Homo sapiens: one gene and its partner. The protein of the gene in region 1 interacts with the protein of each later gene in a pairwise test. Each region holds a gene or a part of one and is shown on either strand. Other genes may lie near its edges. The genes, in order: GFOD2 and BEGAIN.

Evidence for each region.
Region 2: the proteins of GFOD2 (region 1) and BEGAIN interact in a protein complementation assay, tested with the Homo sapiens proteins (one large-scale study listed by IntAct).

Annotation. Positions count from the first base shown.
Region 1 is NC_000016.10:67,717,010-67,720,922, reverse strand, and holds the start of GFOD2 (glucose-fructose oxidoreductase domain-containing protein 2 isoform 1 precursor), read left to right. Parts: upstream 1-1,606; 5' UTR 1,607-1,760; intron 1,761-3,913. UniProt on the Homo sapiens protein: Promotes matrix assembly.
Region 2 is NC_000014.9:100,580,612-100,584,424, reverse strand, and holds part of BEGAIN (brain-enriched guanylate kinase-associated protein), read left to right. Parts: intron 1-3,813. UniProt on the Homo sapiens protein: May sustain the structure of the postsynaptic density (PSD).

The DNA of each region.
Region 1 (3,913 bases):
TAACACAGAACAGAAGGGGGCAGGCAGTGGCTAAAAGTCACTGGAATTGGGAGGTTTGCCAGTAAATTAGGGGAGGTTTGCCAGTAAAAAAGTCACTGGAATTGGGAGGTGGTCCAGTAAATTAGGAAAACTGTCTTATGGATGTTCACAGTGATCGCCACCAGCTAATTAAAAGCTCAATCCTGTGTTAAAATGTGTTGCTTAACCCTGCACTTTCCAAACTTAAGTTACTACAGACTGTGTCACTCAGCAGAATCTTACAGGACTATTACTCTATAGAATGCTCTTAGGGAAGAGGTAGCATAAAGGGGAAAATATGGGTTTTAGATTAAGCATAAAGTCCTGGTTCTATATAAGTAAAGCCAGAGTAGGCTCATTTCCCCCTAGACTAGTGGTTCTCAACTGGGAATGATTTTGCTCCCAGGGAGACACTTGGCAATGTCTGGAGATATTTTTGGTAGTCACAACTGGGCTTGGGGTGCTACTGGCATCTACTGGGTAGAGCCAGGGATGCTGCCAAACATCCTACAATGCAGACAGCTCCCCCCACCCCTGCCCAACAAAGAATTATCAGGTCCAAAATGTCAATAGTGCCACTGTTGAGAAATCCTACTCAAGAAGAGTGGAACTCCGAACAATGACTAAGAAACAGATCAAACAGGCACATTTTGACTCTGCCTTCCTTCTGCCTGGCTCTAGAGGATCCAGGAGAGAAAGGATAAAATCCCATCAGAAGAGGGGGGGTTTAGGGGTTACAACTTCTCATCACTTTGGAAGCCTTCCATGCTCCTCACAGAGGTGGTAGGAGTCCTGTCTCCGCTCAAAGCAGGGATAGCTCTGCTGCTAGTTAGCATATCTCAGTAGGAACTGCCTCACGCTTAGGTCAGCTGACATATTCTGTCACCACAGGCTGCTCTGGAATGATGGCTGGGAGATCATCCTAATGCCAGCTGAGTGGGGATCTTGATACTCAGCAGGAGGGTCAGACAAGCAGGGACGGGGGCTCCCCATGCAGATACAAACCCCAATCACATTTCCTACACAGGCAGTTTTATTCTAAGGTCTAACGGCTTCCTTACTCTAGCGGATAGTTTGCTATTTGGTGGGGCATAGGCTTCAGTAAAGAGGCCAAGGGGACTGAGGTTACAGTCTTGAAGAGCACTGATATTTAAGGAACAATCAAAAAACATCCAGAGGAAGAGGAGCCCAGACAGGCACCTGAGAAAACGGAAAAACGAGTCACTGGGGGTCAGGGAGCCAGGAAGTCCGACGAGTTCGAGAGAACTGGCCTTCTGCAGATATGTCCTTGTCCAACACGAAACCGTCTTTCATTCCAGGACAACTGAGGCTACCCACAGCTACCAAAACCTGGTCCCTGACGCCGGTCAGCGGACCGGAGAGAAGCCAAGCTTAGGAAACTGCCGCCTCCGCCGCCGGAAATGAATAACCTGAGCCTCCTAGCCAGGCTGCTTAAGCTCCGCCCCCAAAAAGCGAGCATGCGCAGCTCCCGGCTACGGCCCCTCCCAGCGCAGGCCCATCCCCGTTATGGAGCATGCGCAGTCCTCCTGCCGTCCCGCCCCTCCCTTTCCAGAGCCCCCAGTTCCTTAGAAACCAGGCGGCGCGTTCCCGGTGGCGGCGCCCTGGACTCCCGGGCCCGCGCATCCCCGCCAGCCTTCCTTAAGGCGGATGGGTGGCCCCCGAGACCCCGTCGGACCCATGGTTTCCAGTGCAGCGCGGAGTGGGCGATGCCAGCGTGCCAGGTGAGAGGCGGCCACCGGTGGCGGGTGAGGGCGAAAGAGGGCATGGCGCGGCCGGGAGCGGGCGCCGACAGGGCCTTCTCCGCGGCCCGGCGCCGGAGGTTGGAGGCGTGGACCCGCAGAGCCGGGGTTGGAGGGGGCTTGTTCCAACTGCCTGCAGGCGCGTGGAGTGGAGGGTCGCCTTGGGATTCGCCCTTTCCACCGCAGAAATAGGACCCGCAGGCTTGGTGGTAGAATTATAGGATTTGGGATCCTGGAAGAACCTGAGACATAACCCATCCTTTTACCAGATGCAAAAACCTAGTCTCCCCCGCCCTGTGCCGAGCGGACCACCTGACTGTGTGAGGATGGACGCTTTGTGGATGAGGATGTGTGAGGTGTAGAAGCTCAGACAAAGGGCTCGTGGGGTAGCTGGTTCGTCCCCTTTCAGAATGAGATGGGACTTTTGGGGATAAATCTTTAAGAAACGGGTGTTCAGTTGACAGGTGGAAGAAGGGACACCCCAGAAGGTGCGAGTGGCTCTGCCAGCTCCCATGTGCCCTATGGCCACGTCTCAATGGCCCTGGCCTACCTTTGTATTTGTAGCTCTGGAAGGAAGCAGATGGACTTGAGACAAAAGGTGAAGTGAGGTCTTCCCATCAAGGCCCTATCACACTTAAAAGGTGAGGGAGGAAGAGTGGACAGGGACATGAGGGCTTGGGAATGGTTGTGTGAAGAGTTTACCCTCCAGACTACAGCACGATCTAAAGAACAAGGCAGGATAGAAGAGTTGAAAGCTGTATTGGATAGGCATCAGGGAAGCTTATTTAACTGTCTTATTTATGTTCATTGTTCCCATAATGTTATCCTGAGGGCAAGAAAGTGGATGTCCTTTTAAATGTCCAGAAAGAACTAGGGCAGGGCACCACCTTTGTGATCTGTGGGGCCCAAAAGCCTCTAAAGGAATAGCCCTTAGTGTGTGGCCCTTAAGTTGAAGGGAACAGCATTTAATTTAGAAAAGGAAGGCACTTAAATTTATTGTGATATGGAGCAATATAGAGAAGATGGTTGTTTTTGAGTCGGGGAAGCTAGATTCATTCTTGATAAGGAAACTTATTTCCTTCTGGAAAGCTACACTAGAGAACAAAAGAGTTTTAAGGCCATCCATTTTACAGGAAACGTGAAAAAATTAACTGCTTTGGGATTGGGAGTTTAGAGAACCTGCCTGGACCAAGAGAGGAAATTTTCAACAGACGGTTCTGTTGGTCGAATCCTTATTTCACAGATAAAGATTCTGTTGTGAGAGGTTATCTCTTACCACCTGGTTTTCCCACTTTGCCATGGAATAATCATTGGTCTGGGTCTAATTCTCTATCTATCTATCTATCTATCTATCGAGACGGAGTCTCACTCTGTCACCCAGACTGGAGTGCAGTGGTGCGATCTCGGCTCACTGCAATCTCCGCCTCCCAGGTTCAAGCGATTCTCTGGCCTCAACCTCCTGAGTAGCTGGGACTACAGGCATGTACCACCACGCCCAGCTAATTTTTGTATGTTTAGTAGAGAAGGGGTTTCACCATGTTGGCCAGGCTGGTCTTGAACTCCTGACCTCAGATGATCTGCCTGCCTTGGCCTCCCAAAGTGCTGGGATAACAGGTGTGAGCCACCACACCCAGCCCTCATTATTATTTTTATTTGCTAGGGCAATTGCTATCTGATTTCTATAGTAATACTAGAACACATTGGTAGTAGAACTAGCAATTTTTTAGAAAGCCTCCTCTGACCCAAAACTTAAAAATTAGAACTATGTGATTTTTAAAAGATGGTCCCTGATTCTAATCATCAAAGTCAGTTTGTCCCTAGCTTGATAAAAACTAATTTTCTATTTACATTTGACTTTGCAGCAGGTTTTTCCCCTTGCCCTTATAAGAAGATACATTGGAAGTATAATAATGTTAACAGGTGAAATCAGTTTAAAGAAGAAAGCTTTGGGCCGGGCGCAGTAGCTCATGCCTGTAATCCTAGCACTTTGAGAGACCAAGGTGGGTGGATCACCTGAGGTCAGGAGTTTGAGACCAGCCTCACCAACATAATGAAACCCCGTCTCTACTAAAAATACAAAATTATCGGGGCATGGTGGTGCACGCCTGTAATCCCAGCTACTTGGGAGGCTGAGG
Region 2 (3,813 bases), on another chromosome or scaffold:
GGCAGGAGTCAGGAGCTGCTGGGGCTCTTCTCTCCCCTCTAGCCAGGAAGGGAACTCAAAAGTGGCCCTTGCCTCAGCAGGCCTTGAGTCTGGAGGACAGTACAGCAGCCTCTGTGGTCTGCCTGGGGTGGGGATCAGCCAGGGCCCAGCTCTGAGCCAAGCAGGGGAATTGCAGTCATTGGTTCAATCAGCAAGCCCTGAGCCCAAGTCAGGGATGGAGATGGGTCAGGCCTGGGCTTTGCCTGGGGAAGCCAGACATGGAAGCCTGGTCATCCCACAGTGGGTGCATGCTGGGATTAAGAGGTGCATGAGGTGGAGAAGCAACGCAGGCATGCTGAAGGGGATGCATGGGTGGATGATACTGTATGGAAGGGAAGCACTAGCAGGATAGAGCAGCGGATGGATGGGTAGAAACCTAGAGGGATAGGCTGGGCGCAGCGGCTCACGCCTGTAATCCCAGCACTTTGGGAGGCCAAGGTGAGTGGACCACCTGAGGTCAGGAGTTCAAGACCAGCCTGACCAATATGGTGAAACCCCGTCTCTATAAAAATACAAAAAAAATTAGGTGGGTGTGGTGGTGTGCACCTGTAGTTCCAGCCATTTGGGAGGCTGAGACAGGAGAATTGCTTGAACCCAGGAGGCAGAGGTGAGGTTGCAGTGAGCCGAGATCGTGCCACTACACTCCAGCCCCTGGGCAACAGAGTGAGACTCCATCAAAAAAAAAAAAAAAAAGGAAGAAAAACGAAAGAGAGAGAGAGAAAGAAAGAAAAAAAGAAAAGAAAGAAAGAAAGAGAGAAAGAGGGATAGATGGACGGGAGGAGAGGTTGATGGATGTAAGTAGCAAGATAGGGATGGGTGGGTGGACAGATGGAAAAGTTGATATGGATACAGGACTGGATTGATAGAACAAAATATCAATGGATGATACATGGGTGGAGGGAGGGAGACTTCTGATACACAAGGCAAGATTGGTAGATGAATGGATGGAAGGATCTTTGGATGGATGGATGAAGGAATGGATACATAAATGGATACAGGTAGTGCCTGGATGTTGGGATGGGTGGATGAATACTTGAATACATGTCCATGAATGATGGACAGAGGAATGAATGGACACTGGAAGAGTGAGTGCATGGATAGGTGATGAGTGTATATTGACGGATGTGTGGATAGAGGCCTGAGAAGGCAGCTCAGTGCACAAATGGATACAAAGCAATGGATGCATGGATACGAGACACAAGTAACAGAGGAATGGACAGACATGGAGGGATGGGCAGGCGGACAGATGGAGACGGGAGTGAGAGGACCAGTGAACAGATGAGTGCCCATCAGCGGGTGAGGGACACAGAGACAGAAGGATGTGTTGGTGCGTGGATGGCACCTGTAAATGGGTGAGCGGTCACAGGGGTGGATGGTGAAGGACGGTTGGTTGAATGGGTGAAGCTTCAGGTCACTCATGCCTTGATTTCCCAGATGCCAGTGTTTTGCTCACAGACCCCCATGTCCCTCTGCTTCAGAGACATATACTACGCAGGCGCAGGGTCAGGAGGGGGCTGATCAGACAGGGAGACTTAACCCCACCTTGACTTTGGTGGGAGAAAAGCCAACCCAAACTAACAGCTATTTGGCCTTTCCAGGCCCGCTTTGCCCTGGAAGACCCACTCAGGAAATAAGGAAGAAGCAGTGAGACCTCTTCGAAAGGTCAGCGGCCAGCCGGGGTTCCTACAGGGGCGTCCTTGCCCAGGGATCTCCCTGGAAGACCTGGACAGCTGTGTACATGTCCTATCTGAGGAAGAGAACTGGGGCACCTGTGTTGGGTGCTGGGGACTGGGAGACATCAAGACCATGGCTGCCCTTGGAGATTCTGAGGCCAGCGTGGAAAATCCAGGGACAGCGGGGCAGGTGATTAGGAGCACAAGTGTGCGGATTCCCAGAGCCTCAGTGTCCTCAACTGCAAAAGGGGAATAATAATAGACACTTCTGACTGGGCGCGGTGGCTCACGCCTGTAATCCCAGCACTTTGGGAGGCCGAGGTGGGCCGATCACGAGGTCAGGAGATCAAGACCATCCCGGCCAACATGGAGAAACCCCATCTCTACTAAAAATACAAAAATTAGCTGGGCATGGTGGTGCGTGCCTGTAATCCCAGCTACTTGGGAGGCTGAGGCAGGAGAATCGCTTAAACCGGGGAGTCAGAGGTTGCAGTGAGCCGAGATCGCGCCACTGCACTCTAGCCTGGCAGCAGAGCGAGACCTGTCTCAAAAACAAAAGAGAAAAAAGAAAGAAAGGAAAAAAAATAAACTTCTGTGCTGGGACGAGGGGAAGGTTGGTGAAGGTGACCACACCTCTGCTGGCCTATGCTGCGGCCCCTGGCGCATGCCCGCACCATGGGGGTTTACCCGAGACCCCTCAGAGCCCAGTTTCCTCCTCCGTGAAGCGGGGTAGCTGCTCCTAGCTTTCAGGCCTGCTGTAAGAATGAAGCGAGGTGACGTTTGGCACTGTCAGCAGAAGCCCGGCATGCCTGCCCACTCGGCAGGGTCCTCCCAACATCCTGTGGCCTGGTCTTCCTGCTCCAATCCCAGCAGACAGTGGGCAGCCTCATGCCCCTTCTGTCCGAGCTGGCAGGGGCCAGCTTTCCAACCACAGGGGCAGTGTGTGCCAGGCAGCAGGAGAGGGGCTTGGGCATCTGGAGAGGAAACGGGTGTGAGTGCCTGACCTTTGGGGTTCTGTCCTGGGCCTGACATGCCCAAGCCATGTGACCTCCGACGGGTCACTGCACCTTTCTGAGACCCTGCTTCTTTTAGCAGAAAATAGAGCCTTTGGCTGTCCTGATGCACAGAGGCGGGTGGGGATTTGGGGTGATGACGCATGCACAGCACGGAGCTTGGCACGCAGGATGGGCTTGGGAAGCAGGACTGAATCAGATGAGTCAAGAGGCAGGGGCTGCGGTGCCAGGAGCCGGAAGCCCCTCCAGGAGAGGTTGTCCAGGCTGCTGGTAGGTGAGCAGGTCCAGGCCGTGAGCCCACGGTAGCCGGCAGCATCCTTAGAGCCTCAGGCCCAGGCGCCTGAGAGCCAGCAGGTTGTTATGACAACGGAAACTTGCCTGATGCAGCCTGAAACTCTGGAAGCAGCTCAGAGGACTGGTTGGCCAGAGCCCCCAGAACACTCCTGCAACCATGCGTGCTAGTGAAACGGCCACATCAGAGCCCCAGTGCTAATGAGTCCTGAAGTCCCTTGCTCATGCCACTTCCCAGCACTGCCATGGGCTGAGTACTGCCCCATGCCCACCTGACAGATGAGGAGGGGATGTGGCTTGCCCGCAGGCCTGTTGGAGTGTTGGAGAAGGGATTTGAACTTGGATCTGCCAGCCTCCAAGTCTCTTTCCCACTGGTAATAGGGCAGGGGCTGAACGGCTGCTGCTGGGGAAGGGCTGTCCGGGTGTAGAGGGGCGACTGTCGGGGACCATAGGGTGGGAGGAGGACACTGTGGCCTCCCGAGAGCCTGAGATCCCTCCCCTATATTCTCATCCTGTTTCCAGTCACAGTAGGCCCACACCAGGCTGGGGATGTTTGTGAACTGACAGCCTGAACCTGCTATGCCATTCATTCAGTCAGTCATTCAAGAACTACGCATTGAGCACCTGCTATGTGCCAGGCCCTATGCAAAGAGCTGGGATACAGTGGAAGTTACATTCTACGGGGGGACACACACACAGATAATAAATAATTGCAAACATTAGTTACAGCTGGGGGCCAGGGCTATAAGGGGCTGCCGCAGGGGTACTTGATCTAATCTGAGGGACAGAGGGGGACA